Regions from separate parts of the Homo sapiens genome. Here region 2 is linked to region 1. Evidence: fine-mapped expression QTL. A gene starts in region 1. The other region holds a variant in brackets. All regions are shown on one strand. Distances are between the middles of the regions. Region 1 holds the start of PTCD3 (pentatricopeptide repeat domain 3). Region 2 has its middle 22 kb from the start of MIR6071.

The links.
Region 2: its variant is fine-mapped to the expression of PTCD3 in whole blood (INTERVAL, PIP 0.99).

The regions. Positions count from the first base shown.
Region 1 is chr2:86,101,390-86,116,221 of GRCh38, reverse strand. PTCD3 (pentatricopeptide repeat domain 3) reads right to left here and starts at 9,987. Exons shown (of 24, transcript NM_017952.6): 1 at 9,871-9,987; 2 at 7,820-7,872; 3 at 7,686-7,722; 4 at 5,064-5,109. The coding sequence starts at 9,974. It overlaps POLR1A (RNA polymerase I subunit A), which reads left to right and starts at 10,336. Exons shown (of 34, transcript NM_015425.6): 1 at 10,336-10,522. The coding sequence starts at 10,446. RefSeq lists enhancers at 9,677-9,936, 10,317-10,526, 10,727-10,816.
Region 2 is chr2:85,796,750-85,814,266 of GRCh38, reverse strand. No RefSeq gene overlaps it. Among named protein-coding and RNA genes, the nearest start is that of MIR6071, 22 kb to the right of the region's middle. RefSeq lists a silencer at 9,531-9,728 and an enhancer at 16,832-17,517. The variant A/G (reference allele first, on the strand shown) is at 8,638.

The DNA.
Region 1 (14,832 bases):
CCTTGTGAGTTTTGATAAACAAAAATTCCGTAAGTTGTAATTATGTATGTAACCTAAATGCGCAAACGTGTGTGGGCATATATACATGTATATATAGAGAAAAAAGACAAAAGACAAACACCTGCACTGTACTCTCAGCTCTACAAGACTTGCCTTTAATTATGCAAGGCAAGCAATGGCTTAAGCCTCCCTCCCCATGGCTGATTTTAATATTTAAGTTTGCTACCACTGGGGACTGTTTTAAACTCTAGGTAAGAATCATCTGAATTAACTAGTCCTAACAGCAGAATCCCAGAATAGGATTTCCTCCAAAGCAAGGTCACTATCCACCCACGCTCAACTTCACCAAGAGTCCCTCCTCCAAATGGAAGATATCACCGTGCCCTCTGAGGAATGAACAACAGAACCTTCTCCCACGTCCTGTTACCCATTAAAATTGCTCCCTAAACCTGAGCATAATCAACTCTCCAATACCACCAGGGGCCCCACTGAGAAATGCCCCAGAATTGCTTTCTTTATTCTCTTCTGTGTCTGAGTGCCTTACTTGGGCCTTTATTCCAAAGCAAAAACTTATCCTATATCCTTAATGCTGTTTTACTGACCTGGACTCCTCAGGGAGGGGGCACAGAAGCTTCCCTGCAGCTCTCAACGGAAAGCTGCTCATACCTGGAACCTGGAGGCAGTGTTTTATTTTGGACCTAGCTTTCTGCTACCCCTTTCAAAAACCCCTTTCCCTTGAGCCTCACCTTAGCAGCCCTGTTGTGAACTTCAGTTTTTATTTGAATTATACTAATGGAAAGCCAATGTTGAATTCTTAAGAGTGATATGATCCAGGGTCACTACAGCTGCTGAACTGAGAGCAGTGTGCAGGGAGGTGCAGTGGGAGACGACAGAGACTGCTGCAATTAATCCAGACTTGTAAGACGACAATAACCAAGGTGACTGGTAGTGATATCAGGCATCTAAAATTTTGATATTTTGCAGAAAAGAGTTAACAGACCTGAAACCATTATCCTTAGGAAGGTCTGCGTCCAAGGCTGGCCCTTGGCTGCCATCTGGGAACCTGGATATTGGAAGGGTTCTCACCATTCCTAGAACTGCTAAGAATGGTTCACTGTGCCTAACCTGTTTGTACAACGTGTTTTGTGCCAAACACCTGCTTCCCTTCTGGGAGTATGGAAACTTGGTATAATATATGCCAGCCAGTGGGTGGTCTACATGGCCAGCCTCCCCTAAAAACTCTGGGCACTGGGTCTCTAATGAGCTTTGGTAGACACTTTGCATGTGTTGTCACAAGTCACTGATGGAGGAATTAAGCATGTCCTGTGTTGAATCTTCTGGAGAGGTCTTTTGGAAGCTTGTGACTGATTTCTTTTGGTCTTTATCCAATGAGCCTTTTCTCTTTGCTGACTTTGCTTTGTATCTTCTTGCTGTCATAACTCTTAGCCTGGGAGTGGTCACGGAGACCTCACACACACGTATCTTTTGAAGGGATAAACAAAGGCTTTGCTAACAATTCCCAGGATTTTGGCCTGAGCAGCTATAAGAATGGAGTTGCCATTAATGAGATGGCAAAGAAATATGTGAGGAATGTTTGGAGGGAATGGGGTTTGGTTTTGGATATGCTAAGCTCTTTATCACACTCTCAAGTGGAAAGCTTTCCCATTCTCCACATAGCTCTCTTTTCTAAAATGTCTGCTTAGAATTCCTTTACCCCCATCCTGGCTAACACAGTGAAACTCCGTCTCTACTAAAAATACAAAAATTAGCCGGGCGTGGGGGTGGGGGCGCCTGTAGTCCCAGCTACTCAGGAGGCTGAGGCAGGAGAATGGCGTGAGCCCAGGAGGCAGAGCTTGCAGTGAGCTGAGATTGCGCCACTGCACTCCAGCCTGGGTGACAGAGGGAGACTCCGTCTCTTTAAAAAAAAAAAAAGAAAGAAAAAAAAGAATTCCTTTCTCAGTCTTGGCGATACAACCCCTTCTCAGTGCTACCTCAGTCTTCCCCTCTAGAACTACACAATATCTGTGTCTAATTCTATATCCAGCACAGTGCTTGATAAGCATCATAAGGGCACAAAATATTGTTGCTGAATGAATGGATAAACGAATAACTCTTGGATTTTAAGGGCCAGATAAGTCACAATTCTACACACAATTCTATAACTTCTTTGATTTGAAAGTGGCCCTGGGCCATTCTCATTGAAATGTTGAGAATATCTCGGAGGTCCATTTCTATGTTTACATTTCAGGTGCCTATTTATGGATAAGTGAGCTACTGAAAATCTCAATGCTTTGCAAGTAGGGAGATGTAGTAAAGTCCTTTTTCAGAAACTGGTAGAGTACACCAGTGCACATTAGACCCAACACTATCTTTAGTAGCTCCATCTTTATTTTATATTTAATTTTTTTGTGTGTGGCGGGGGGGACAGGGTCTCACTCTGTGGAGTACAGTGGTGCGATCCTGGCTCACCGCAACCTCCACCTCCACCTCCCAGGATCAAGTGAGCCTCACCTCAGCCTCCCAAGTAGCTGGGACTACAGGCGCATACTACCACGCTCAGCTAATTTTTGTGTTTTTTTGTAGAGACAGGGTTTCACCATGTTGCCCAGACTGATCTCAAAGTCCCGAGCTCACAGGATCCACCCGCCTTGACCTCCCAAACTGCTGGGATTACAGGCATGAGCCACTATGTCCAGCCTAGTAGTTCCATTTTTAGATGTAGTTTAATATCCACAATAGAAGAACAATTCTGCGTACTTGTAATAATCGACTTAAGGAGGATCAATATCCATACAGATACTGTGGCAGAAAAAAAGACTTAATTATTTTAGACTTTTCCCCACAGACGAAATTAAAAGTTTTTGGTTAATAAAAAATACAACCAAGCAGAAAGTTCCATTTCTGATGCATTTACCAAAGTTTCAGTGTATCTACCAGACTACAAACTCTACTCTTGAGTTGCCAACAGAGAAAATTTCATGTCAATGAAATCAACAATACAGTAGTAGCAGTAACAAAATACAATGTACCAAGAATTTCCTTTGTCCCAGACTCTATCCTAAATCTTACGTATACTTAATTCATTTGTTAATAATTCCACTGCAACCTTGAGGTTTGGTGCTATAATTAACCCCCAATTTATAAGTCAGGAAACAGAAGTATCAAGAGGTAAAGTAACTTCCCTAAGATCATAAAGCTAGTTGCTTGGCTATTAAAACAAACCAGTAGGCTCCAGGACCCAGATTATTAATCATTACATGATTGTCAGCATGACAGGTACATTATTTCTCCAAGTTGGTATACTACAGCCAAATCGTCCCCTAAGAACATACATTTCAACAAGCCCTTCCAGGGATTAAAGATCACTGGTATGGTAGAAAAACACTGCATTTCGAGATAAAAGGCGTGAAATTAAGCCTTTAATTAAGGTTTTAACATCCTAACCAGCCACTGGCCACTTTCAAAACCTTAGCTTCCTCCTTTGCCAAATAAAGGGATTTGATAATTTTATTTTAAATTTTTTTTTTTTTTTTTTTTTTTGAGACAGAGTCTCACTAACTCACCCAGGCTGGAATGCAGTGGCAGGACCTTGGCTCACTGCAACTTCTGCCTCCCAGGTTCAAGAGATTCTCTTGCCTCAGCCTCCTGAATAGGTAGGACTACAGGTGCCACCATGCCTCGTAATTTTTGTTTTTGTTGTTTTGGTAGAGACAGGGTTTCACCATGTTCACCATGCTGGTATCGAACTCCTGACCTCAAGCAATCAGCCTCCCTCGGTCTCCCAAAGTGATGGGATTAGTGATGGGATTACAGATGTGAGCCACTGCTCCTGGCCAATAATTTTATTCTTAAAAAAAAAAAAAAAAGGCCGGGCACTGTGGCTCACATCTGTAATCCCAGCACTTTGGGAGGCCAAGGCGGGTGGATCAGGAGGTCAGGAGATGGAGACCATCCTGGTGAGCACAGCGAAACCCCGTCTCTACTAAAAATACAAAAAAATAGCCAGGCGTGGCGGCGGGCGCCTGTAGTCCCAGCTACTCGGGAGGCTGAGACAGGAGAATGGCATGAACCTGGGAGGCAGAGCTTGCAGTGAGCCGGGACTGTGCCACTGCACTTCAGCCTGGGCGACACAGCAAGACTCCGTCTCAAAAAATAAATTAAAAAAAAAAAAAAAAAAAAGTTTGGCGCAGTGGCTCACACCTGTAATCCCAGCACTTTGGGAGGCCAAGGCAAGTGGATCACCTGAGGTCAGGAGTTCGAGACCAGCCTGACCAACATGGAGAAACCCCGTCTCTACTTAAAATACAAAATTAGTTGGGCGTGGTGGCACATGCCTGTAATCCCAGCTACTCAGGAGGCTGAGGCAGAAGAATTGCTTGAACCCAGGAGGTGGAGGTTGCGGTGAGCCGAGATCGCGCCATTGCACTGCAGCCTAAGGCAACAAGAGCAAAACTCTGTCTCAAACAAAACAAAACAAACAAACAAACAAAAAACAGATGGGGGTCTTGCTACATTGCCCAAGCTGGTTTTGAACTCCTGATGTCAAGTGGTCTTCCTACTTTGGCCTCCAAAAGTGTTGGGATCACATTCATGAGCCACCTGGCTCAGCTGGATTAGACAATTTTTTTTTTTTTGAGACAGAGTCTCGCTCTTTCGCCCAGGCTGGAGTGCAGTGGCGCGATCTCTCCTCACTGCAAGCTCTGCCTCCTGGGTTCACGCCATTCTCCTGCCTCAGCCTCCCAAGTAGCTGGGATTACAGGTGCCTGCCACCACGCCTGGCTAATTTTTTATATTTTCAGTAGAGACGGGGTTTCACTGTGTTAGCCAGGATGGTCTCGATCTCCTGACCTTGTGATCCACCTGCCTCGGCCTCCCAAAGTGCTGGGATTACAGGCGTGAGCCACCGCGCCCGGCCTAGACAATTTTAAAGAAACTTTCTAGACGCACAACAGTTTAATTCTGAGTAATGACGAGGTATGAGTATTAAATGTGTTATTAGCCGAGTTAAAAAGTGTGTTATTAGCCAAGTTTTAGGTTAAAAAAAAACACAAAATCCTACTTACCCTGTTTACTGTGGATGCAAGTGCCTGAAGAACGGCTACTTTATCCCTAAAAATAAGAACCACAAGTTAATCCTCATCAGGGCTCTTCATAGCCACAAACCGAACAAGTGATTCTACTCTCAGTGTACTGGCCAATAACATAGTGCAGATCTCATCTGAAGCTGGTTATGTCACAAGGTCACTAGAATAAATTAGAAATTAAGAAAACTGCTGGTTCTTTCCCCTAGTTGGTACATGTTCCTCTCTTTGCCTGTCCTCTCTGGCCTGGTGCATAATGCCATAACCCAGGGCTAGTGATTTCCATCCCGCCCTCATAAAACTATCTGGCCTACTTCCTCTACCCACTTTCCTATGGATTCTTACTGCAGCTTTCGGGACTACTGTTGCCTTTACTATCCTAATTGGTAGCTCTTGATTCAGTTATAGGAGAATAAACCACAGGCTTCACTCTGGACCTATTGCATCAAAGCCTCCCAAGATCCATGGAGGACTGTCACACACACTCTTACTGAATTCCCAGATAATTCTGATGCAACCTCCTGGTTTAGAACCTCTCAACCATATATAACGTTATGGTAAGAATTGCAGGCCAGCTGTCCACTGCACCTCTGAGTAGAGACCTTTACTGAACTATTAGAAAAGGCTTCACTGGAATAAATGACAGACAAGATAATTTGATCTCAAATATATTTGTGCTCCTATGTTAGATTTAATGTGTTTCCTTTCCAAAAGGGAATTATACCAAGAGTATTTTTCTAAATAAAGTTTAACATAACATTCTTAAGACTATAAGTCATCTGAGAAAAACAAAAGTACAGGAAATTTTATATTTCATCAAAACTAATTCCCTGATGTACATAATATCCACTAAATTTTCTATCCACGTTTAGAAGTCACATTTATGTAATTTCAGCAAGTGTGATAACGACACATTCTCTCATCTGTCAGCATTCCTTCAGCAGATCTTTTATTGCCCTATTTAAGTCTTATCAAGTTAGCAAACTTTCCTAACATATTGAACAAATGGCAGTGAAAAAATGATGACATTCAGATTACTCACTAATTCTCTTTCTTTAAAGGGTTACTTTAAAAGGTATCATACATTATCTTAAAAAAATAAACTAGAACATTACACGTTAACCTAAAGTGTCTGGTGTCATCTTGTGACCCCTCTCCACGATGAATTTGGTATTTGTATTTCCAGAACTTTTAAAGGTATTTTCACACATAAACATCTCCCTAAAAAACGTATACACACTGTCATTCTGCATGTGTCTACATAAGTTTGGCTGCACTATCCATGTTATTAAATATAGAGCTAATTAATTCCTTTCAATGTAAAAAGTTATTGTATGATAACCTTTTAAAATTATCCATTCACTTTTCAATGGGCATTCAGGCTGTTTCAACCTGTTACTATTCCCAAGTAATAAAGAACAGTCTTGTCCATGTATATATGCAAATGTTCCTCCAAAGTGGCTAACCAGTAAGGTACGCACATTTCCAATTCTGATTCTGCCAAATTTCCCTCCAAAGAGCTGTTCCAATTTACTGTCCCATAAACAAACGTATTTCTTCAAATCCTCTCTCTGCCAATACGGTAAGTTTTAATTTGCACTTCTTTTATGATCCCAGTTACCTATGCATTGACATCACTGGGCTCCCTGGCCTCCCTAAAATAATCACACAGTTCAGATTAATAAAGTTCTTAAAAAAGTCTTTTTAAATGAACCCAAGTCTTTTTTTTTTTTTGAGATGGAGTCTTGCTCTGTCGCCCAGGCTGGAGTGCAGTGGCGCGACCTCGGCTCACTGCAAGCTCCGTCTCCCGGGTTCACGCCATTCTCCTGCCTCAGCCTCCCGAGTAGCTGGGACTACAGGCGACCCCCCACCACATCCGGCTAATTTTTTTGTATTTTTAGTAGAGACGGGGTTTCACCGTGTTAGCCAGGATGGTCTCAATCTCCTGACCTCATCATCCGCCCGCCTCGGCCTCCCAAAGTGCTGGGATTACAGGCGTAAGCCACCGCGCCTGGCGAACCCGAGTCTTTAGGTCACATAATTTTAAGACCTAGCTTTTTGAGGGGCCACTAAATGCGTTCAATAGGACTACACTGTAACAAGCACTTTTGTGAAGTTTTAATTCCTGCATATTCAACAAATGTTGAATAAATGAGATGAGGCAATTTGTTCAAGGATATATCCAGTGAATAAAAAAGCTAAATTTTGCTGTCCACACCATTTACTTTATTTTTACCTCATTAGAGATAATAAAGACAGTAACTGTCTGCTCTTGAATCATATGAGAGAACTTCCTTGAAAAAAATTATTCTAATGATGATGTTCATGTATAACCATGTATTATTAACCACGTAAATAGTAACCCACACTAATTCAAAATCTCTTTCAATTGTTCTTTTAAGTAAATCTCATTGCTCATTCACTCACTATTCTCCACCTTTCCATTTTTTGTCCTTTAAACTCCTAGCTTCTCCCCGCTCAGCTACTCTCTTCAAGAATGCTCTCCTATTGCTCTTCCTGTCACTGTCTCCTTACCTAACCCTTACACTTCTCTCATAGTAAGCACTCAACCATTTGCTGAATGAACACTGATAGAATACTTACCAAGTTTTCTTTTTTGGAATTACTACTTCTTCAATCCCTAATGTAAAAAAGAAAACATGAATCAGTTTCCTAGTACTACAATGGAATCCAACGTGTTGATATAAAAATAGAATTCAATATATTTTAAAATATACCTGTTACATCAGTTCCTTCAACCTTTGAGAGGGTTGCACTACCAGAATAAAATCTGCAAAAAAACAAAAGCCTTAAATCTAATAGTCATTAATGAAGTACCCAGCTCACCTCCACCTATGTGTACTTTGAGCCCAAATTCTCCAATTATCACGGATTAAACTGGATAACTCATGTCAATGAACGCTGAGAAGACAGTCTGTACACATGTTCAATATCATTAAGGAATGGATACAAGATATGGACAAGACTGTCAAAACTTTTTTTTTTTTTTTTTTAGAGACAGGGTCTTGCTCCATTGCCTAGCCTTTAGTGAAGTAGTGCAATTATAGCTCACTGAACCCTTGAACTCCTGGGCTCAAGTGACCCTCCTGCTTCAGCCTCCTGAGTAACTAGGACTACAGGCATATGCCACCATGCCCGGCTAGACAAAAGTTTTGGAAGCAAGCAATCTCATTACATAAATGGCAGAGAGGGAGGAAAGTTTTTAATAGCACTTGAACAATCTGGTTTGAAATGAAGAACTTTCAACTTCAGGAACCCAAAACACTATGATGTTTAAAAGAACAATTCAGTGAGCTCTTGCTTCTATACAGATACTGCCCTGATCAGAAAGGACTACCTCACTTAAAGCAATTACAACATAGGGAAGATGACCCATGGCTTCTCATTCCACTTCTTTCAACAATCAAGAATGTACCAAATACATAAGGCCTGATTTAGACTTGGAATTGCTGATATTTTCTATTTTCAGAGGTTCAATATGAAATCCTTTTTAAACCAAAATATAGAATCATTGGCCCATGACTGAGTTTTTAAGTGTTCTGTTTAAGTGTTCTGATCACACTAAAAACACAGTCAACACACCACAGATAATGTGACGGTTAGTATTATCTTGTGTTTCCCCTTACTAAATGGCATCAGTAACATTCAGAAAATTGTCAAGATGTGATTGCACAGACAGATACTTCCTCCAGTAGTATCTGGTTTCAGGTATCATTTAAAACAAGAATACCCCTCTACGTTAAGGACATTTCAGAAAGAGATCAACTCTTTCAAGTTTCTGAGATCAACTCTTTCAAGTCACACTATTTGTTTCTCATGACCTTAAAACAGAGATCACAGTTATTTTGAGAACGGATGCTGAGGAAGAGATTCTGCTTCAGGCAAAGAAAATGAGTAGAAAAATGCTAACGATGGCTACCAGGAAACGGAGGACTGGCATTGAATGGCAGCACAAAGGTTTCTGCAGTATCAGATGGAGTGGTTTCTCTTTCTTGAGGGGAACTAAGGGAGAGTACATATAAAAACATATTGTAAATTACATACCCCACTTATACCTCACAAACTTTTCGGATGGTTATTACCAACTCTAGTCTGCAGATGAGGAAATCTGTCTATTATCATCCAATTAAGTGAATGGCAAACACTAAACCTAAAATTAGGCTTTTAGCAAGTTTTCACTACAAATTACTGCCTCTCATATTCCCACAATGCCACTGTTTGTACTGAGTGAAAAAAAAATTACACAGATAGGTCATACATGTTCCAAGCTATAACTATCACAGATCAAAAGGGCATAGTCAGATCTTTTAGACTTTTCTGCTTTTACGAAAACCTGATAACTTCTTTAGCCAAAGTCCCCACGGTGGCGACCAGAGACTGCCTTTTATTTGGGAAGATCTTGTACGTTCTCCTCGCTCCTCCTGATTGGGTTAAAATGAGTAATGGCGGATAATTTTTAATTTGGGGTAGTGTTGCTAATAGCCACACTCACTGGAACGCAAGCTTCATGAGAGCAGGGTCCTAGCTTTGCGGATGGTGTTAACTACAGAATATTGCAAGCAACCAATAAGTATTTCTCTAATGAATAAATGCGTTGCGAATCCTATTTCAAAGGGCCACCTCCGCGTACCTGGTCTTAAGGGCACGCGACCGTTAAGGGCGCGCATGAGCAAACCATTTCATCGTGCCTACTTCCACAGCCAGCTGGGAAACATAGGACTAAGGTGACTCCGCGGTCTTCTTCGCGGATACCCTAAGCGTCTCTTACCTGCAGCTGCGTGCCTGTTCACACAAACCCGCCCGCCGACCCGTCAGCGGCTGGCCAAGCCTGCTGCGGAGGCCCAGCCAGCGAACAGCAGATACAACCGCCATCTTTGATTTCTCTGCAGAGCATGTTGGGAAAGCGTGCCTCGACCTTCAGGAAGGTGGGGCGCAGTGGGCGGGGAGCAGGGAACAGCTCCGCTATTGGCTGAAGCGGAAGAAGACGAAAGCAATCATAAAATGGGAGGTTGCAAGCTCATGGTTTGAAAGACTTCGTCACGGAAGCTAAAAGCTCTATACACCCGATTTGCCTCGGAGGAATTTTCCTAAATGATTATTTTGATGTCTTATATATCTTTGATTGTTTTCAAAACAAAAGAGCGAGCAGAGAGTCGTACAACTATTTGTTCCCCCCCCATGTAGAAGTGATCTCATCCACGTAAATGTCGTTCCTGCGACCGCTTCCGCGCGCAAGCGCACGTTGAATCGCGTGGTGACTCCGGGCTTGAGGTTGAATTAAGAATAGTCAGGTGGTGAGTGGAACGTCTCTTGGGGTGTCGGAATTCAAAACGGACCTGGAGGATGTTGATCTCCAAGAACATGCCCTGGCGGCGGCTGCAGGGCATTTCCTTCGGGATGTATTCGGCTGAAGAGCTCAAGTAAGGAGTTGGTCGGGTAGCGTGCCCAGCCTGGATCTTGAGGTCGGCGCCCTAAACTACGATTCCCAGAAGCGCTTTTGCCCAGTCTATCCTCTTGAGTCCAGGCTTGTCTGGCGCTTGTCCTGCTGGGAGCCGTAGTTCTGGGAACGTTCCTGGGCCGGCGTGGACTGCCTGGATAAGAGGCCGGTGGTGCTGGGGGAAAGAGTTTGCGCTGAGGTAGGGGAATATAAGGGTGGGGAGGGTCCTGGTCTGCAGCGTTATCATCTGCCAGTCTCCTCGTTAACTAACAAGCATTTGTGGAATTAACCATAGTGTACCTGACATGGTTAATTAGGCACGTAGTAAGTTTCCTCTTGTTTGTAAAATGATTGTCCTTCAAGTGTCAGTTCAGGCGTTAACTTCTCTTTGCTAGGACCCTGCTATATTCTCGGTCTGGTTGTTAAATCAAGGGAACTCTCTTTAGTCTTCATTTTGATCAAGGTAGCATTTGACATTCTCCAATGCACTCTCTTGAAACTTTCCTTTCTTCCAGAACCTTATTTGTCTTCAAGTTCTCCTATTTTTATGACAAATACTTCTACCTCCCTCTCTTCCTCTATCGATCTATAACCTCACAAACATTTATTGAGCATCCAGTTTTTTCCAGGCACCAAGCTAGGCGTTAATGACACATTGGTGAGCAAGGTCTGTACCTCATTTTACTCCTTAAATGTTGATGTTCTTCAAGATTCTATTCTAGTAATGTTTTCTTCATGGTAAATATTGTCCCTAGACAATCTCACCACTTTCATGATTTATAGTCTCAAATTTAAATCCCCAACGCAAATTTATTTCCCTGATTTTCAGACCCATTTGTTCAGCTGTCTGTACATCTTTAATTGAATTTCACACAGAGATCTTAAATGCATATCAAAAACTCAACATGGCCTAAATGCATATCAGAAACTCAACATGGCCGGGCACGGTGGCTCACGCCTGTAATCCCAGCACTTTGGGAGGCCGAGGCCGGCGGATCACGAGGTCGGGAGATCGAGACCATCCCTGGCCAACATGGTGAAACCCCGTCTCTACTAAAAATACAAAAATTAGCTGGGCGTGGTGGCGGGCACCTGTAGTCCCAGTTACTCGGGAGGCTGAGGCAGGAGAATCGCTTGAACCCAGGAGGCGGAGGTTGCAGTGAGCCGAGATTGTGCCACTGCACTCCAGCCTGGCGACAGAGCAATACTCTGTCTCAAAAAAAAAAAAAAAAAAACTCAACACGGCATCCCTCTTCAAAGGGAGGGGTTACTTACCCCTCCAAAATGGTGTACGTAGTGCAAAATAGTCACTAGAAACTGGAAAATTATTCTAGATCTCTCCTGACATATAACTTATTTATTGGGCTCTTACTTTGTGTCACCTACATGTCTATTTGTTCTTAGTCTCCTTTTTCTCCCAATTGCTACTGTGTTGCCTCTGGCCCTTATCTCATATTTGAATTGTCTTTTCCTTCCACCCTCCCCTTACACCTCTCAAGTGCATGCTCCACACTGCTGTCAAAATTATTCTTGCAAAGTGCAAATGTAGTCATGCTACTGTCACCCTTAAAACCCTCCAAATGTTCTCCATTTCCCTCAGATAAAGTATATTTTCTTAGCATAGCCTGCAAAGTCTCCCATGATCAGACCAATGCTGATTTTAGCTATAACATCATCCCTTCTTCAGCCCTATTAAACCACCTGCATATTCCAGAAACCGCCATCATATTTCAACATCTGGGCCTTTCTTTAAGCTATTCCCTCTGCATGCAGTGTCCTTTCAGCCAAAAGGAGGTACTTCCCTCTGTCCCCTACCCAACATACACACCTGAAAGCTCAGTTCACCTCCCTTGTTTTGTGAGGTCATTTTGCACATGATACAGTTGTCTGTCATGGTGCTTTAGTGACTTTTTGTGCTTATGTATATTTGTCTTCCTCCACTATCCTTGAGCTTCTTATATGTGTCACTCTTGTCTTTTATCCTCAAGTCTGAATAAATGGATGAATAAACTCCTGAGCCACAGCTCTGGTATCATTGGTAACAGTGTGCTAGCCCAGAAATTCCAATTATATCATCACTGCCATAAGTGGATACGATTTCATCCAAAAGCAGAAGTGTTTTAAGTTGCCTGAATTTTTAAAAAGATAATTGTGGAGTTTTCAAACAAGTTTAGAGTTGAGACATTTCAATAATACTGCCACCTTTTATTGTGCCAGGTTCTAATAGCTTCCCATCTCACTCAGAGTAAAAACCAAGTCTTTACAAATGGCCTGGAGGGGTCATTTCAGTCTCCTGTTACCTCTCTGATCTCACCTCTATTCTGGCTACCCTGACCTCCTTGCTGCATCCAGAGCACCACGGGCACACATCCACCTCAGGACCTTTGCACTCCCTGCTTCTTCCTCCTGTAAAACCCTCTGCCCAGGTGACTGTATGGCCTGCTCCCTCAACTCCTTCAGCCTTTGCCCAAGTTCCTCCTTAGTGGGCTTCTAGGACCACTTGCCTACTCTGCTCTTCCCTTTCCCTGCATTATTTTTCGTCATAGCCCTTTCTGCCGTCTAACAGACTATACATTTTGTGTCTGTTCCCGTTCCTCCAATAGAATGTAAGGCCTGTAAGCATAGCAGTTCTTGTCTGTTTCCTTAGCACTTAACACTGTCTGGCACACAGTGAGCACTCTGGGTATTTGTTGAGTGTATGAATAGATGGATAGAGGAGCTAGCTGCTCAGTGCTTGGCACTTTCAGTCCTTAACGACACCCATTCTCAGTTCTTAACAACACCATTTGTGGTGGCACCTCCAGTAAAAAATTCAGGCCCAGAGAACAAAATGTCTCTCTAGGAAGTGGCAAAGGTCATCTTCAAACCTAAGTCTATTGATCTCAAACTCTACTGACTGGTGGAATCCTTGCTAGTTGCCCCTACTCTTCATCCCACTCCTGTAATGGTGGGAGGGACTTTCTCCTCTACAAAGAGAGAGGAACTTTGTTTGACACTGTATTTTCTGTATGTTATCTTCTAATCATCCCAATAGAGCTGCTGTGATGCCCAGACTTCAGGTGAGAAAAAAATTAGGTAGTTATCAAAGGATACAGTCAGCAGAGTGAAAGGGCAACCCATGGAATGGGGGAAAATATTTGTAAATTATATATCTGATGAGAGATTGATATCTAGAACATAAAAAGAACTCCTACAACTCAACAACAACACAAAATTCAATTTTAAAATGGACAAAGGACTTAAACAGACATTTTTCCAAAGAAGACATACAGATGGCCAGTGAGTATGTGAAAAGATGTTGAACATCACCAATTTTAGGGAAATGCAAATAAAAAGCTCCTCAAATCCAGTAGGGTGCTACTATCAGAAAAACAGAAAGTAGTAAGTGTTGGCAAGGGTGTGGAGAAAGTGGAAGCTTTTTGTACACCATTAGTGTGAATGTAAAATGGTGCAACCACTATGGAAAACAGTAGGGTGGATTCTCAAAAAACTAAAGACAAAATTACCATGTGATCCAGCAATTCTACTTCTGGATGTGTATCCAAGGAATTGAAAGTAGGGTCTCAAAGAGATATTTGTATACCTATGTTCATAGCAGCATTATTCACAATAGTGAAAAAGTGGAAACTACCCAAGTGTCTATCAATGGATGGGTTGATACATAAAATGTGGTATATACATGCAATGGGATATTGTTCAGCCCTAAAAAAGGAAAAAAGTTCAACACATCCTATAACATGGATGAACCTTGAGGGCACGGTGCTAAGTGAAATAAGCCAGTCACAAAAGGACAAGTACGGTGTGATTCCACTTAATATAAGGTACCTAGAGTAGTCAGATTAATCAAAACAGAAAGTAAAATGATGGTAGCAGAGGAGATGAAGAATTACTGTATAATGGGTACAGGGTTTCAATTTTACAAGATGAAAAAGGGTTCTGCAGATGGAGAGTGGTGATGGTAGCACAATGCAAATGTACTTAATACCACTGAACTGTACTAATTGAAACAGTTATGATGAATTTATATATATTTTATTACAGTTTCAAAAATTAAGATTAAAGAACAAAAGGTAAGTAATTTGTTCAATGTTACCCAGTTCAGGGTTGCAGGTGGACTCTAGATTTGTGGGAAGAGACCACACGCACAACTTTTGAGTTAGATCAAGTTTCTCATGAAATTAGCTTACTGGCAGCAAGGTGACCATATAGACAAGAGCCACAGCAGCAGATCTGCCTCCCTGTCGCCTTGGCCCTTAGAGTGACACTGGCCATGCAACATAGAATCTTCTAGAG
Region 2 (17,517 bases), 300 kb after region 1:
CTGACCCTCGATCTGCCAATTTTTAGACACAAGTAACACGCCCCCAAGTTCTCTGGCCCCCTTAGGCTCCTTACTCGTGATCCTCAGCTGCCTTGGCACTGCGCCCTTCTGGAAGCCCCTGGGGTGGCTCACGTGTGGTCCCAAACCAGTCTGCACCCATAGGGCACCACTGCAGCTCTGCCAGATGTCTGGGGTATCCCACATGGCACCCCAGACTCCCAGCAGCCTCCACCTGTATATGCATCCCTCCCCCAAGCGTCAAAGGTGTGAAGTGGTTGGGGCCAGGAATACCCCCACTCTAAGGGGTGGGGAGACTCAACTACGAGTCCTGCAGAGGCCAGACCAGGGGACGCCAGCCTTTCCATCATCAATTCCTCCCTTCTTACTGCTGGGCCAGCTCACTGGGTCATCCTGTCACCCCTCAAGTCTAGCTCCCCACCACAACTGTGACTCCCACTTAAACCAACACTTCAGCTCCCACAGTGTTCCAGGTGCTCTCATACCTCTCCTGTCTCTCAATCCCAAAGTAAAATATACATGATTACCACCATGGGGGAACTGAGGCTCACAGGAATGTTAAGTGATTTGTCCAAGACCTCATGGAACTGCAGTATCAGGACCCACACCCAGATCTCTGGATTCCAAGGGCCATGTTATTTCCATGACACTGTCGTGCCTCTTGGGTGTGGGCACTGGGGGTTTGGGCTGTTTGGGGGAAGTGGGATGGCAGCTCTAGCTGCCCAGCAGAGGTCTGGGAGATCCACTATGTGGTCTCAGGCCTGGCATGGCCCACACTGAGGTTGGCATCATGTGGCTCATGGGCAGGCCTGGAGCCCCTCTGATCCCAGAATGGAAACCCTTTGCAGGCTGCTGGTATAGGGAAGCCCAGCCAGGAGCTCACACACCTGCCGTTACCTGAGGTTTCTGCCATTACCTGAGACAGCATGGGCTCCTGGGAGGCCCTGATGACAGAACAATTAAGGGGGTTGTAGGGGGAAGGGTGGGCAGAGGAGTTACACCCCCACGTGCTTGGCAGCAGACGTCAGGAACACGGGGTGATGCCCACATTGTCTCCTGCCTCCTTATACAAACTGTCTGGGGCTTCTCTTTTTCCTTCATACAAGTCACCAGTGAGGACAATGTCACCAATCACCCAATATTTACCACCAATGAAAATTCGTTTCCACAAATGGGAGACCCTGCTCTGCACAAGAGACTAGACCAGACCTGTAGGGTTTGGGGGATTTTTTGTTTTTGTTTTTTGAGATGGAGGCTTGCTCTGTTGCCCAGGCTGGAGTGCAATGGCATGACCTCGGCTCACTGCAACCTCCGCCTCCCAGTTCAAGCAATTCTCATGCTTCAGCCTCCTGAGTAGCTGGGACTACCGGCGCATGCCACCATGCCTGGCTAATTTTTGTATTTTTAGTAGAGACGGGGTTTCACCATGTTGGCCATGATGGTCTCGAACTCCTGACCTCAGGTGATCCACCCTCCTCAGCCTCCCAAAGTGCTGGGATTACAGGCATGAGCCACTACGTCTGGCCTCAGATCTGTAGGGTTTTGACGAGTGACCAGAATGAGGGAAACAAACATATCACAGACCAGCGTGGCCCAAGTCGAAGGAAGGGAGGCTGAAGGCACTGGTTGGGGGTGGAAGTGTTGCAGCTCAGAGGAGAAGCCAGCCCCACCGGAGGGGTGGCCAGTGAGTGGCCTGATGCACAGGCAGGCAGCCAGCGAGCTTGGGGGTGGGGGAGAGGCTGAGCCAAGGCCGAGAGGTAGGAGGGGGCAGCTCGGGCTCTTGGTGGGCCAAGGTGGGAAGTGCTTGAGGGCACTTGGCAGAGCTGGAACTGGGACAGTGGGATGAGGCCCAGGTGTGGGGGGCTCGGTGCCAGGCTGAGGATGCCATGGACACACAGCTCATCAGCAGCTCTGGCCACCACCAGCTCCTCCTCTGTTACAGTTCAGAGTGTGGCAAATCATCTGCACTATGAAAATGATGGCCTGGGTTCAACTGTTCATTTGTTCAGTTGACTGGCCGGCCAGTCACCAGCTTTGTGACCTTGGGTAGGTCAATGAATTGACCTAGTTTCTGCCCTTAAAATGGGGTTACAGTATTATCCCATGGGGCTGCTGTGAGGATTAAATGAATTGATTTGTAGGCAGCACTTAGCATGTGCCAGGCTCAACATGATGCTATCACTATTAATCCATATAAATACTAACAGCTACCACTTAGGGAGCACCTACTATGTGCCAGGCTCTGAGCTAGTTCCCCACCTACATCATGTCTTTAACCTCCAAGGTAACTTACCATGATCACGCCCATTTTACAGATGAGGAAATAGAGGCCCTTGCCCACAGTACAGTCATAGTGCTGCCAAGTGGGGAGCCGGGTTCCCACCCAGGCCTGCCTAACTCCCAAGCCCAGGCTCTGAGGATCCAGCATCCGACAGCTGCATCTTTCTGCAGGGGAAGGGGCCTGGGCCATGCAGAGTGTGTGGTTTATGGACCACAGGGATTTCTGAACCCAACTTTGGGCGCATGTGTGCCTGGCACGTGGGGGCAGGAGAAAAGCTTAGTTCCTCCCGCCGAGCCTCAGCTCACACACTCCGCAGACCCTCCTGCGCCCACACCCAGGAATCTTGGTTTTAGGCGACACATCGTGATGCCTGCTAAAAGCAGAGCAGGGAAAAGGAGCCCTTAAACAGTCCAAATGTGTCCCTCGCCGCGCCTGATTTTCCCAGAGCCCCGGCGCGCCCAGACAGAAGTTGTGTACACAGGATTTTAGTATTTCCTCTCCGGCTCCAGCCCCAATTTGAGGGCCTGTAAAAGCTTGAATGGCGTCCAGTGCGGCGTGGTTTGCCTAAGCTCGGCTCCCGGCGCTGAGTCAAAGCAGCCCACACAGGGACCGGGGCGCCTGCTAGGGGGGTGGGGGGCGCCTGCGGGGGCGGGGGGAGGCCGGGGGCGCCCACACCCACGTCCAGGCCCAGCCGCCGCCTTCCAGCCGCCGGGGCTGGCCCTGCTGCGGCTGAGCAAACCTGGTGACTCGGGGTACACTCGTGGCGGGAGGCAAGGACGTGGTTGCATGACCCCTTTCCTCCCCCTGCGCCTGGGAACCTCTCCCACTTCATTGGGGTGGGGGCGGGGGGTGCTCCGTGTGGCTCAGAGGCTGCTTCAGATGTCTTCTCTGAGGCTGAGAGGCTCTTCCAGTCCCTGATTTTTAAACATGCCTCCAGCACCCCTCTCCCTGCCAGGAATCATCCAGTACAGTGCCCAGACTGACCTGCTGTGTGAGTCTAGGTAATTCACTCACTCTCTCTGGGTCTCAGTTCCCTCATCTGTAAAACCAGGGCGGGCCTGGGCTCCGTCTCTGGCTCCTGCCAGACCCAGCACCTTGGAGTCTAAGAAGATTAGGAGCCACCTGGGCTGCAGATAAGGTGCCCATGCTCTCTGGAGGGGACAAAGGTTGGTGGGGGTTGGGGGATTTTCTCCAGGGGCTGTGACACCACGACACCCACAACCAGCCAGTAACGGGAGGAGTGTGTTTCAGGGTCCAGCAGATCTAGGGGCAAGTGGCCAGGTGTGAAGGTGACAGCTGGGGAAGCTCTGAGCCCCTCACTCTCAGGAGCCTGGGATCCCTGGCACCCTGAGGCGCAGTGGCCTCTTGTCCACACAACCCATGGGTCAGACAAGGCCTGGGCCTGGCACCCGAGGAGTCACGGTAGGCACATTCGGCCATGCTGCACAGCCTCTGCTCTGCAATTCCCAGATCCAAAAGCTCGGAAAACCAGCCGTGCGTGCATGCGTGTGAGCACGTGTGTAATGTCTAGGGCTAAATCTGACCTGAACAGAACTCATTTGGTGACTTGAAGTGACACAAGATAATTTTAGTCTGTATTTATCTCACTCCTTGGGAGTATTTATACCTTACATTTGTGAATATTAATTACATTAAATGTGTTTGATGACAGGGTCTGCCCCACATCCTGTTGGGGGAGGGAGAGTTACCTAATAAACACCACAACCCTAGACAACTTTTCTAACTCCCCTTTAAAAAAAAATACACATCTTTGAAACTTCCTGGCCCCAAGGGTTTCTGATAAAAAGCTGTGGACCAGTGTAAACGATAAAAGTGACAGAGCCAGAGAAATGTCAGTGGCAGTGATTCAGGTGGTTCTTCATGTATTCCATGCAATGACACTCTGGGGGATGGGATCTGCTGGCCCCTCAGCCCATCGGGAACATGTTGCAGGACTAAGAGTGACTTAGGTGTTTAAATATACGAATGCTTATGATCCCCAAAGCAGATTTCTTTATGGGTGGCTGAAGGGATTTTTTTTTTTTTTTGAGACATGGTCTCAGTCTGTTGTCTAGGTTAGAGTGCAGTGGCACAATTATGGCTCACTGTAGCCTCAAGTTCCCAGGCTCAAGCAATCCTCCCACTTCAGCCTCCCGATGAGCTGGGACAGGCGCACACCACTATGCTCAGCTAATTTTTGTATTTTTTGCAGAAAAGAAGACTCACTATGTTGTCCAGGCTGGTCTCGAACTCCTGAGCTCAAGTGATCCATCCGCCTCTGCCTCCCAAAGTGCTGGGATTACAGGTGTGAGCCACCGTGCCCAGCCAGGATTCTTTTGGTCTCATTTTGTAGTAATTACAGATCCATAGAAAGGTGCAAGGAAATGTACAGGAAGGTTCCATGCACCCTTCACCCAGACTCTGCCAATGTCTTGATAAATTACCATAGGACCATATCAAAACCAGGAAACTTGGTATAGTCCTTAGAATGTATCCGGATTTCACCAGATATATGTGCACTCATGTATGTGTGTATGTGTCTGGGTGTGTGTTGCTCTTTGCAATTTTATTATATGTGTAGCTTTGTGTAATTTGTCTTTGACCCTGTTAACAGGATCTGTTGCAGAGCAGAAGTTTTTCATATAGGATTTTTTAATGAGGCCCAAGTTATCAATTCATGATCCATGTTGAACCAATTTTCTTTTGTGGATCATGCTTTTGGTATCAGGAATAAAAACCCTTTGTCCAGCCCCAGATTCCAAAGATTTGCCCTTATGCTTTTTCAAGTTTTATAGTTTTGTAAAGTCCATTTACGTTTGTGATCCATTTTGAGTTAATTTTTGTATGGGGTATGAGGTTAATTTGAGGTTCATTTTTAGCCAATGGCTATCTCCAGTGGCTGGAGGGATTCTAAGAGCCATTTTAACCACTCTGTCTTTGCTTTAAGAACACTACTTTCAGGTGAAAAAAAGGAGGCCCAGAGAACTAAGACAACTTTCCCAAGGTCACTGTGGTTGTCATGAATGCATTCCCTACTCTCTGTCTTCCAGGCCCGTGGTAAGATCACACTCAGGGCCCCTCTGTGGTAGGGCAGGGCCATGAAACTGGCCCTGGCCAATTTGTTGTGAGCAGAAATTATGTGAGTTTCTCCCAAATCAGGGCATTTAAATGTCATAGTGAGGCTGGACACAGTGGCTCACCCCTGTGATCCCAACAATTTGGGAGGCTGAGGTGGGCGGATCACTTGAGGCCAGGAGTTTGAGACCAGCCTGCCAACATGATGAAACCCCGTTTCTACTAAAAATACAAAAATTAGCTGGGCATGGTGGTGCATGCCTATAATCCCAGCTACTCTGTAAGCTGAGGCAGGAGAATCTCTTGAACATGAGAGACAGATGTTGCAGCGAGCTGAGATCACGTCACTGCACTCCAACCTGGGCCATTGAGTGAATAAGAGACTGTCTCAAAAAATAAATAAATAAATAAATAGTAAGGAAATGCCACAGTAAACCCTCCAGATCTCTTCTTTCCCTCTCTCATAGCAAGCAGCAAGTTAGAAATGGTGGCTGCTCCATCAGCCTGGATCCCAGAGTGGAGAGACATGGAGCAGAGCCCCTGTGAACTGACGATGGACATTCAGAGTGAACAAGAAATACATCTTCGTGTTTAAGCAATTATACTTGTCGGGGCATTTGTTACCACGCATGACTCAGCTTATCACCAAGTTGGATTTTGGAAGAATCCAGGTCCTCCTCGTTCCACGGTAAATGCACTTTGCTAGGAGTTTTCATATGACCTTCCCATCTGTCCTCAAGAGTCCTCATGGCTTACTATCATGTGCCACAAGAAGAGACCAGCAAGATGGGTTAGATGGCTTTCCAGGAGCCTTCTGTGCTACCAGAATACCAGGCTGTAGACAGCCTCTGTTCCCAGGACCTCTGTGCCAGCTCAGCTCAGAAACGGTCAGTAGGGAACTCAGTGATGGTGCTCTCGTCCCACTCTGCTTAGCACTAGCCACTGCCCCCACCCAGGGCCTGGATCTACTTCAGAGGGCCCCTCTGGGATGGACAGGGATGAACTGGGACCCACTGAGGCAGAGGCCTGGAATGGGAGTGGGGAAACACAGTGGGGCTTCATAGTGTCAGGTCCAGAAGGCAGGATGTCTGAATTCGTGCCATGCACCAGGAGTTCCTATGGCAGAAGATACACCATCTCTGGCCATGTTTGGGGACATGCTTCTGCCTATCAATATCTATTTCCCCTTCTTCCTTGTAACAAACCCAATTCATTTGGAATGGAAATGGGCCTGGTCCCACAAAGAGGCTCCACTGAGCATGACAAGCCTGTTCCTCAGTTCCCCAGCCCCCTTGCACCCAGGATAGGGCCATAAGATATAGGTGGAAGCTGGCAGGGGGTGGGGTGCAAATGTCAAGTAAAACTGGTTTCCTGACAAAAGGGTGCAGCTGGTATGGCCCTCTCTTTCCACCTTTCTGCCTCTTGGTTTTCTTTTAAACACAGACACGATACTTAGAGTTGTACCAACCACATTAAGACCATGAGGAGAGGCCATAAGAATCTCAGAGTTGTCGAGTTACCACAGCAAAGTCAGCAACCACCATTTACTGATTTCTTATTATGAGAAAAAGGCACCCCTGTGTGATTAAACTTCTAGAACCAGGTTTCCTGTTACCTGCAGCCAAATGCCTTCCTAACTGGTACAGTGCCTACCTAGCAGGGGAGTTAGAAGAAAGGACTTATTTTACCACCTCCTGGACTTCTCTTTCCTCATCTGGGGCCACATACCCCCCAGATCAATCCTGTCCCTAGAAATTGTCCCCGATCAATTCTGTCCTTGTAGCAGGAGGTCTGATGTAAGCAACCCCACATCCTGGGCCCTGCAATAGCCGCCTTTTGCACCTTCCACATTGCCACCAAAGTGATCTTTCCAAAATCATGGCACCCCTCTGCCAAAAAATTGTATCACTCAAATTCCTTCCCAAGCTTTCAAGGCCCTTCCCATGCTGGATTTGGCTGACCTTTGCAGCTTTCTATCCCTTTACCGCTCACTGGGCACCCCAACTCCCATGACTTCACCTCCTTCACCCTGCATCCACCACAGGCTGAAATGCTTGTTACCTCCTTTGCACACTTTCTGCATACCTTTGTTACAGCAAGTGCCACGATACTTATAATTAATTGTTTATAAATCTTGTCCTTCCAGAGAGTGTGTGCTCTGAGGACAGGGGTCAATCCTTACTCTATTTGTATGTGTGTCAGCTTCTAGCACAGCCAGTACTCAAAAAAAAAAAAAAAAAAACCAGCCTGCTGAATAAATAAAACCCCAGTGCTTTGGTTGTATGTTGAATATTAACCTTGAGCTTCCTCTTTGGGCTCTACATGGAGTTGCTCTTCAGGTAACCTGTGAAGTTTCCCACTATAAAGAAAGGACTTGCTCAGTTCCTTATTAAGCAATACTTATTGAGCAACTACTGTGCACTTGTATCAGTTAGTTATCACTGCATTCATGCTGTGTAAAAAATATTTTTAAAAAATTCCAGTGGCATATGACCATGACCGTTTATTTCCTACTTGTCTGAGGGTTAGCTGGAGGTATTACAATGTGTTATTATTACAAGCCCCACTTTTCAGATGAGGAAACCAGAGATGCAGAGAGGTAGAGTAACAGTCCAATTTTGCACAGTTGATAAGCAGCAAAGCCAGACTTAAAACCCAGGAAGCCTGGCTCAAGTTGGATTCTTAACCATGATGTTGCACTGCCTCTCCATCTTGGAGAGCATCCCACCGCTGTGCATGAATAACTTACTCATTAAAAAAAAATCACAGCCTAATATTTCAATAAATGGATGTTAATATATCATATCATATGTCGTATTTAGCCAGTCTGATATGGTTTGGCTATGTGCCCACCCAAATCTCATCTTGAATTGTAGCTCCCATAATCCCCACGTGTTGTGGGAGGGACCTAGTGGGAAGTAATTGAATCATGGGGGCGAGTTTTTCCCATGCTGCTCTTGTGATAGTGAATAAGTCTCATGAGAACTGATGGTTTTATAAAAGGGCAGTTCCTCTGCACACACTGTCTTGCCTGCCACCATGTAGGAAGTGGCTTTGCCCTGCTTTGCCTTCCGCCATGACTGTGAGGCCTCCTCAGCCATGTGAAACTGTGAGTCCATTAAATCTCTTTTTCTTTACAAATTACCCAGTCTCTGGTATGTCTTTATTAGCAGTGTAAGAACAGACTAACACCACCTCTGTGCATCAATAATTTACTCATTTTTTTAAAACCCACAGCCTAATATTTCAATAAATGGATGTTA[A/G]TATACCATATGTAGCCAGTCCCTACTGATGCATGTTTAACTTTTTCCCAGTCTTTTGCTATTATGCAATGGTGCATGAATAATATGTGCCCCACTCATTCAGCATCTGCAAAGTGTATCTGCAGGAAAAATTCCTAGAAGTGGAATTGCTGAATCAAAGTTATTTGTCTTTATAATGGTAATAGCTTTTGCTGAATTGCTTACCAAAAATCTATGGAGTATCAATGTCTCCACACCCTCTTCCACACCGTGTGTTAGTGAGCTTTTTGATCTTTAACAGCATGACGGATGAAAAATAGTATCTCAGTGTTGTTTTAGCTTGCATGGGTTTTTTTTTTACTATGTATAGATTGAAAAAATGATGCTACCTCATGGGGTTGTTGTGAGGATGAAATGTATTAAGACTATTGACCCATACCAAGTTCTTAGAGCAGTACCCAGAACCCCAGAACATAGTAAGCACTTAATAAATGTTCAGTGCTATTACTATTATATATTATGTGAAAGTGCTGGAAGAATAAAGCACAGGGCAATATGCATAATATACTTACTATCTGTGGGAGAAAATGAAACAAGAATATATATACACACACATACCCATACGTACATACGTATACGTGTATGTATGTACTTGTGTATATATGCATACATAACAGTCCTCAGGAAAGATATGCAAAAGTAGAAAACATTGATGCCTGTAAGGAAGAAAATGGCTGCTGGTGACAAGAGTGAAGAGATTTTTCACCTCATTTCCTTTATTTCATAATTTTTAAATCATATGCAAGAATCATTTATTCTCAAATGGCTGTAGTTCCTGATATCCTCCTGCAGGGGGAGGGGAAGATTCCAGCCCCGTGGTTTTAGCCCCAGTCCCCAGGAAGTGGTTACAGCCCCTCTTGCCACCTTCCTACCCTTGCCTTTTGAGAGTGCCAGATTCAGCCCTGAAGACAGTTCAAAAGAAACAAGGTTTGCACAAGCTGAGGAATTGAAAGGTTGGTGCTTATTCTCCCCTATCTCCCCACCTTCTCCAACCCCTATCAGTGTATCCATGCCCATCAAGGTAGGAGGAGAAAAGCCAGTGCAAAAAGGAGGGAACCTGAAGCCTCTGCCACCTTCCCTGAGGGGTAAGCAGAAAACAGTCCTGGACTTGGGTGCCCTAAGCTTCAGCCTCCCACTTGCCACTGACCTCCTGGGGAGGCAAGAGCCATCACCTCCCTGGGCCTCAGTTTCCTCAGAGTTAAAAGGGTTACTGACACATAGCCTCCATCAGGGCATTTGGATTAAATGAAGTAAGAAATGTGTAGCCACACTGAAAAATACCAAAGCATGATGTTGATGAGGCTTCCAGAATATAAGAGTAGAGTAACAGGCAGTGCTCCGGAGCTGTCACCAGAGAGGGGCGTCTCTCGGTGTCACTGTTGGCACCGCTCCACAGAGCACCTGCTGCTAGCATAGACCTCCAACCTGGGAGGACCTCCTCTCATTCGAGAGAATGAATGAAACACCTAACCACGCACTACCAGATGTCACACAGTCACTGTATAGAGAATGAAGAGAATGATGCAGGAAAAAGAGAAGTCAACTCCACATTTAGTAAGTGTCTGCAGGAATTTTGCCGAATGCATTAGAAACATCAACCTTTGGTGAAATCCACGGATTAAAAACTTACGTGCTCAGCCATTAAGAGGAAGGAAACTCTGACCCATACTACAGCATGGGCGAGTCTTGAAGACATTATGCTAAGTGAGCCAGTCACAGAAAGACAAAGATTGTATGATTCCACTTAGATGAGATATCTAGAATAGGCAAAGTCATAGACACCAGAGGTAGAATAGAGCTGCCATGGGTTACAGAAGGGAAATGGGGAATTATTGTTTGATACCTTCTGAGTTTCAATTTGGGGTGATGAAAAGTTCTGGAGATGGATAGTAGTGATGGTTGTACAACACTGTGAAAGTACTTAATTCCACTGAATTATAAACCCAAAAATGCTTAAAATGTTAAATTTTATGTTATATATATTTTACCACAATAAAAAAATTGTTCCCTCCAAAAAAAAAAGAAGAAAAAAATTCACTAACTTAATGCTCAAAGCAAAATTTGAACAATCACCTCAGCAGATACTGAACTAGTTTGGAAATAAGAGCCCTGAAATAAACACTCAATCCCAAGACTAGCAGTTGTGGGCATGGAGCAGTGTGGAGAGCTGAAGGGAGCAGCAGGGCCTGTCAGAAGAGGGATCCACCAGGTCCAAGCTGATGCAGTCTCCTGGCCATGCTGTTTGGAGTTCCTATCAGTTATTAATGAGGAGCCACTGGGCAGTGAGACTAGAAGCCACTGTGTAATCTTTTTTTTTTTTTTTTTTTTTTTTTTTTTTTTTTTTTTTTTTGCGATGGAGTCTCAGTGTGTCACCCAGGCTAGAGTGCAGTGGCACAATCTCAGCTCACTGCAACCTCTCCCTTCCAGGTTTCAAGCCATTCTCTTGCCTCAGTCCCCCAAGTAGCTGGGATTACAGGCATGCACCACCATGCCTGGCTAATTTTTGTATTTTCAGTAGAGACGGGGTTTCACCAGGTTGCCCAGGCTGGTCTCAAGCTCCTGACCTCAAGCGATCTGCCCACCTCGACCTCCCAAAGTGCTGGGATTACAGACGTGAGCTACTGTGCCCAGCCACCACTGTGGAATCTTTATGGTCTTGTAGATCTAAGTCTGCAAAAGCAATATCACAAAATGTGTATGGTTCTCATGTTACAGTGTGATGTCACTCATGCTAAAACGGATCCTTCTGTTTACTTCATATAACCCTGAGTTTAAGCAAAGGGGAGGACACATCCAGCAGATTGCCTGGGTCTGGCGAACCTCACCATCTCAGTCCATTTGAGCTGCTGTGACATGGTACCATAGGCTGTGTGGCCTCTAAACAACAGAAGTGTATTTCTCAAAGTTCTGGAGTCTGGAAGGCTGAGCTCAGGGTGCCAGCATGGTCAGGTACTGCTGAGGCCTCTCCTGGGTTACAAGCTGCCCTCTTCTTGAGTGGTGTGCTCACACAGTGGAAGAGGGTGTGAGAGGTCCCCAGGGCTCCTATGACAAGGGCACTAATCCCGTTCATGAGGGCTCCACCCTCATGACCTCATCACCTCTGAACAGCCCCACCTCTGAGTACCATCATATCAGGATTAGAATGTCAACATATGAATTAGGTGGGACACAAATATTCCGTGCATAACATGTAGCCATTAAAATAGAGATTCTGCTCTTCTGAGTGGGCGACATCAGGAAAGCCCCAGTCCCATACCTCCTAATAGAATTCTGTCCACAGGAGGCTTGGTTTGATTTGGGTGTGTGACCCATGACCGTCCTCAGGGAGAAATGATGTTATTAAGCAGTGTCCACCTCTGCACTGTTACCATCTGTGTTCCTGAGCGGACAGAGCCTGAGAAGAGAAGGGAGGTTGGGATACAGACACAGCTCAGGGGGAAGAGAGCTGGAGTCAGAAGCAAACTGTGAGTGGTTCCCCAAGGCCGGGAGGAGGGTTCGCTCTTGTTGTTTGCAGAATCAGTCTCCTGCACAGGCAAGGGGAGTGATCACAAACACCTGGGGCCTCTGGGACCTAGAGAAAGCCCGACCACTTGTAGTACCTGCCACCTCACCTGCCAAGACCTGACATACCCCTCAGAGCACGAGTGTCCCATAGCCTGATTAAGGAGAGCAGCATATGTTAAAAGTACTAAGCCACATCTCACTTTGGAGAATGTATTTGTTGGGATAAAATTTGGCTGTCATGACAGAGACCCAAAGCTTCCCAAACATTATTCCCATCACAGCACACAGAGAAAATTGTAATAATTGTGTAGCTCACGGGGGTAAAAGAATAAGGCTGTGTCTTATTTCTTTCAGACTGCTAAAACAAAATACTGTAAATTGGATAGCTTATAAACAGAAATTTATTTCTCACAGTTCTGGAGACTGGGAAGTCCAAGATCAAGACACTGGCAGAGCAGTGTCTGGTGAAGGCCTGCTTTTAGTTCATGGATAGTGCCTTTTTGCTGTGTCCTCATATGGTGGAAAGGGAAAAATCTCTGGTCTTGCTAGTCCCTTATAAGGGCACTAATCCCATTCATAAAAGTTCCACTCTCATGACCTAGTCACCTCCGAAAATCATCACATTGGGAATTAGGTTTCAACATATGAATTTTGGAGAGACACAAACATTCAGTCCATAGCAGGCTGCTTACATGCAGAAGCAACTGGCCCTGAGACAGAGGGGATCAGTAGCTTCATGCACCTGCAACCCATTGACAGCACTCCAGGAAGGCCCAGCATTGGTTGGGATGCTCTGGCTTAATTAATATAGACATTCATGTTCCTCTCACTTAGAAGTCTGAGTTGTTATGCTGACCCTGTCCTATGAAGCCATCAAGGGCCCAGACCCCCTCTATGTTGTTGCTCCTCCATCCCTAGCATGTTGCCCTTATCTGCAAGATCCCAGATGGCACACTGCACATCCACCTTCCATCCAGAGAGAGGGTAAAGGGGAAGGGAAGACCCGCCCATCCTTTTAAGGGCATGTATCAGTTGTCTATTGTTGCAAAACAATTACCCCAAAACTTGGTTGTTTAAAACAATAAACACTTATTATCTCAGTTTCTGTGGGTCAGGAATTCAGAGTTTATAGTCAAGATGTCATCCAGCACCACAGTCACCTGAAGGCTGGTTTGGGGGTTAAGGACTTGCTTTCAAAATGGCTCTTTTACGTGACTGTTGGCAGGAAGCCTCGGTTCTTTGCCACATGGGTCTTCTCTCCATAGGGCTGCTACATTGTCCTCATGACATGGCAGCTGGTTTTCCCCAGAGTGGATGATGCAAGAGACAGAGAGCAAGAAGGAAGCCAACTGCCTCTTCAGTTCAACCTCAGGTGTTCATTGCTTCTACCACGTTCTATGCATTAGAAGCAAGTCACAAAGTGCAGGCTATGCTTAAAGGAAGGGAATTAAGCCTCCACCTAAATGAAAGAAGGACTGTCAAATAATTGATGGCCATATATAAAACTACCTAGCACAGGGCACATCCAGGCAGTGTTGCACATACCTCTTCTGCTTGCACCCGTTGACTAGAACTCAGTCCCACAGCCATACAGAGCCCCATGGGAAGCTGAGATACATTGTCTTCATTGTAGTGGCTGTCCACACAACTAGAAATTGGTGGTCTATTACTATGGGAGAGAAATGGGAAATTAATAACATTTCTGCCTCAGAGGAAACAAAAACACAAATATGCTAGGAGGAAAAAAAAAGAATCCTGTGGAATATAATTTACATTCTAGGAGAAGAAAACATGTTTTTTCGTCATTGACATTCTTGAAAATGCTCATGACATATAGTTGAGTGAAAAATGCAGGTTGAATAGAGCACGATGCCATTTATGACAATGTGCATATGTATATGTCAGTGAGTGTGGAGGCAGAGAGGTGCCTGGAAGGATGTTCACCAACACAGTCACTGTGGTTATCTCCAGGTGATTAGATTATTGGTGATTTCCTCATATATTTCTATGTTATCTTTCTATATCATTTACTGTTTCTCAAAAAAAAAAAACCAGAAAAAGCTATAAAAATATTTCTTCCTACTCTTTCTAATCAACCCCCCACGGCCCCCACCCCAAGCTGGTCTAGAGGAAGAAGACTGATGAGGAATTCCTGGCGCTGTGCAGTGAGTCCGGCTGGTGAACCTGTCAGCTCTGAGTCATGCCAAGTGCAGGGCAGGCAGGTGGGGCGGGGCCAGGGGCCTGGTTAGACAGTCAGGATGTGCCAGTGAACACAGCATCAGGGCACGAAGTCACAGCTGGGACCATGTGAGTGGAGAGGGGTTACGCCAAAAATCATGAAAGCAGAGGTCAGAGGCTGCAGAGTCGCCCAAATGGTGAGAGTGGCCAAGGTGTGGTGTTGGAGGGGATGTTCCAGGGTCCAGGGTCCAGGGTCCACATGTTGACCCTGAAAGTCAATGATGAAAAAACATGTGGACTTTGCATCAGGGCCAAGCATCAGGCTGAGGACAACGTTCCCACTTCCAACAAGCCCCCAGGGCTGGGAGGAGAAGAGAGTCCAGGAAGCTATGCTCTATATAAGAGATGGGAGCCAGTGCAGGTTGAAAAGACCCCAGGTGCCTCCCCCACCCCCAGGGCACAGATAGGTAGGAGCAGCCAACTGGATTGCAGCCCCAACATAGCCACGAGGGCTGCCAGGGAGCCTGTTGCTGCCCCAGCAAGAGAGTTGGCTGCCAGGTATGACTGCGCTGTCCCCTGCTCAGGCAAGGACGGTGACTGGGTTTAATGTCGCCTGCCAGCTCTGATCTGTGACAGTAGCTCTCTGGACTATGGGGCTGAGAAAGATTCTAAGACCAAGCTGGAGCTTAGGAGGAACTGCTGAAGTGATTAATTAGTGATGTCTGCCAAGCCACAAAAGGAGGGTATTTTAGCCCAAGTGCTACCATTCCAGCAGGCACTCTTTTTCCACTAGGGGTTCACCCTCACCTCTTCTTCCCCCACTTGTCTGCCTTCCATCGTAAGGAAAACTTCCATTGTAAGGAATATTACCCACAATCCTATGTTTTCATTCTGGCCATTCACTGCTAGGGTTTTCTGCATACAGAGAGCCTTTTTATGTCATTCTCATCAGAAAGTACATCCTAACTGTAAATGCTTTTCCACTTGGTATTACAGTACAAGGGTTTTCCTATGATTGTTTTTTAATATCCTTTTTAAAAAAGTAACACAAGATCGTTGTAGAAAGTACAGAGTACCAGCAATGAAAAAAAACCTTAAAACCTTTCATTCTAAAACCCATAGAGGACCCCAGAGCCTGCCAGGCAGTAGCGGACCAGGAGGATCCTCATACTAAGCGATAGCGCTGGGAATGGCCATAAGTATCACAATTACCTGGGATGCTTTAAAAAAAAAATGCAGATTCCGTCTTACACACATGTTAGAAAACGTCAGTCCTCCCCCACCCACCTCCCCTGTAAAAACAAAAATAGGCAAAGACTATAATAAACAAGACAATTCACAGAAACAGAAATTCAAGTGGTCAATAAATATGAACAATGTTCTTCTCTATTAGGCAGGAAAATGAAAATTAAAGCAATGAGATGCCTTCCCTGCTTCCCCAGAAGACTGGCAAGAACTCAAGTGTGATAACGTCCAGCACAGGCAGAGAAATGGGCATGAATTGCTTCAACCTCTTGGGAAAGTAATCTAGAGTTGTTTATTAAAATTAAAAATACTCTATACATACACTGGACAGAATAACCACACTTCCATGATCTAGTCTACAGAAGTCAAACCACCAGGACATAAAGATACATGTACAAGTACATTTAATGAAGCATTCATCCATTTGTGCAACAAATATTTGTTCATCAGCTACTGGAGACTGAGGACAGCATTCCTAGTTCCAAAAAGCCCCAAGGGGGCACTGTTTAGACACTAGGGATGCAGTGGTCAGCAAAACAAAAACCCCCGCTCTCATGAACTTTACGGTCTAGAGGGAGGTGATAGTGTTTTCAAACTGACATAGCGTGGCAGAGAGTGATGAGTACTATGGAGAAAATAAAGCAGGGGAGAGAGTGCTAGGGGAAGTAGGGGAGTATTGCGATTTAAAATAGAGCCATTGGCTGGGCGCGGTGGCTCACACCTGTAATCCCAGCAATTTGGGAGGCCGAAGTGGGCAGATCGCTTGAGGTCAGGAGTTCGAGACCAGCCTGGCCAACATGGTGGAACCCCGTCTTTACTAAAAATACAAAAATTAGCCAGATGTGATGGCACACACCTGTAATCCCAGCTACTCAGACGCTGAGGCAGAAGAATCGCTTGAACCTGGGAGGCAGAGTTTGCAGTGATCCAAGATCTCGCCAGTGCACTCCAGCCTGGGCGACAGAGTGAGATTCTGTCTCAAAAAACAAACAAACAAACAAACAAATAAATAAGATCGAGCCATCACGGAAGGGCTTGCTAAGGAGGTGCTATTCAACCAGAGGACTGAAGATAATGAGGGAACGAGCCAAACGGATACTGGGGAAAGAGCATTCCAGGCAGGGGGAACAGCCGATGCGAAGGCCTAATGCAAAGAGTGGCTGGGTTTGGTGTGTCAACCACACAGACGACAGCAGTGAAGGTGAGGTCAGGGAGGTGCCAGGGCAGGTGGTGCGGGGCCTTGAAGGCAAGGATTCAGCTTCGCTCTGGGTGATGCAGATAGGAATATCTATTGTGATAGACAGAGCGATATCTATTCCTATTCGTCTCTGGGATACAGACAGGAATTGGAAGTCAGCAGCCTATGAAGGGCGTGGCCCTGAGTGAGTGGGGAGTCCCGAGGACTGAGCCCTGGGGTGTGACAACAGGCAAAGGGGGCCTGGAAGGAGCAGCCGGAGAAGCAGGAGCCAAACCAAGGAGACGGAGCTGCAGAGCCAGTGAAGACAACATCTCAGCAGGGGAACGGGCTGCGCCGATGCCTGATACGTCCAGTCCAATGAGGCCTAATGCTCGACCTGTGGAGTCAGCACCATGGACACCCTGAAGAGACCAGCTCAGGGGAAGGATGTGGATCTCTGCTGGTGGGCACTTGAATAAGCCCCTCAGGGAGGAGAGTGGGAAGGACCTCCGAGAGCAGAGAAGGCAGCTGACAGGCCCGGGGCAGCAGCTGCAGAGGGGCAGCTGTGTTTCTCCAGAGAACAATGGGGTACCCTGTGTCCTCGAGCTCCAAGGCGGGCGCCTCTCTCCCAGGGCCAGGAGGAAAGCGGATCCCTGCGTTAATTAAGTCTCATCAGCAGCAAGGCAGTGCTTGCCAAAGTCCTGCCTCTGAGGAAGCACTGGGCAGCAGGGACAGGC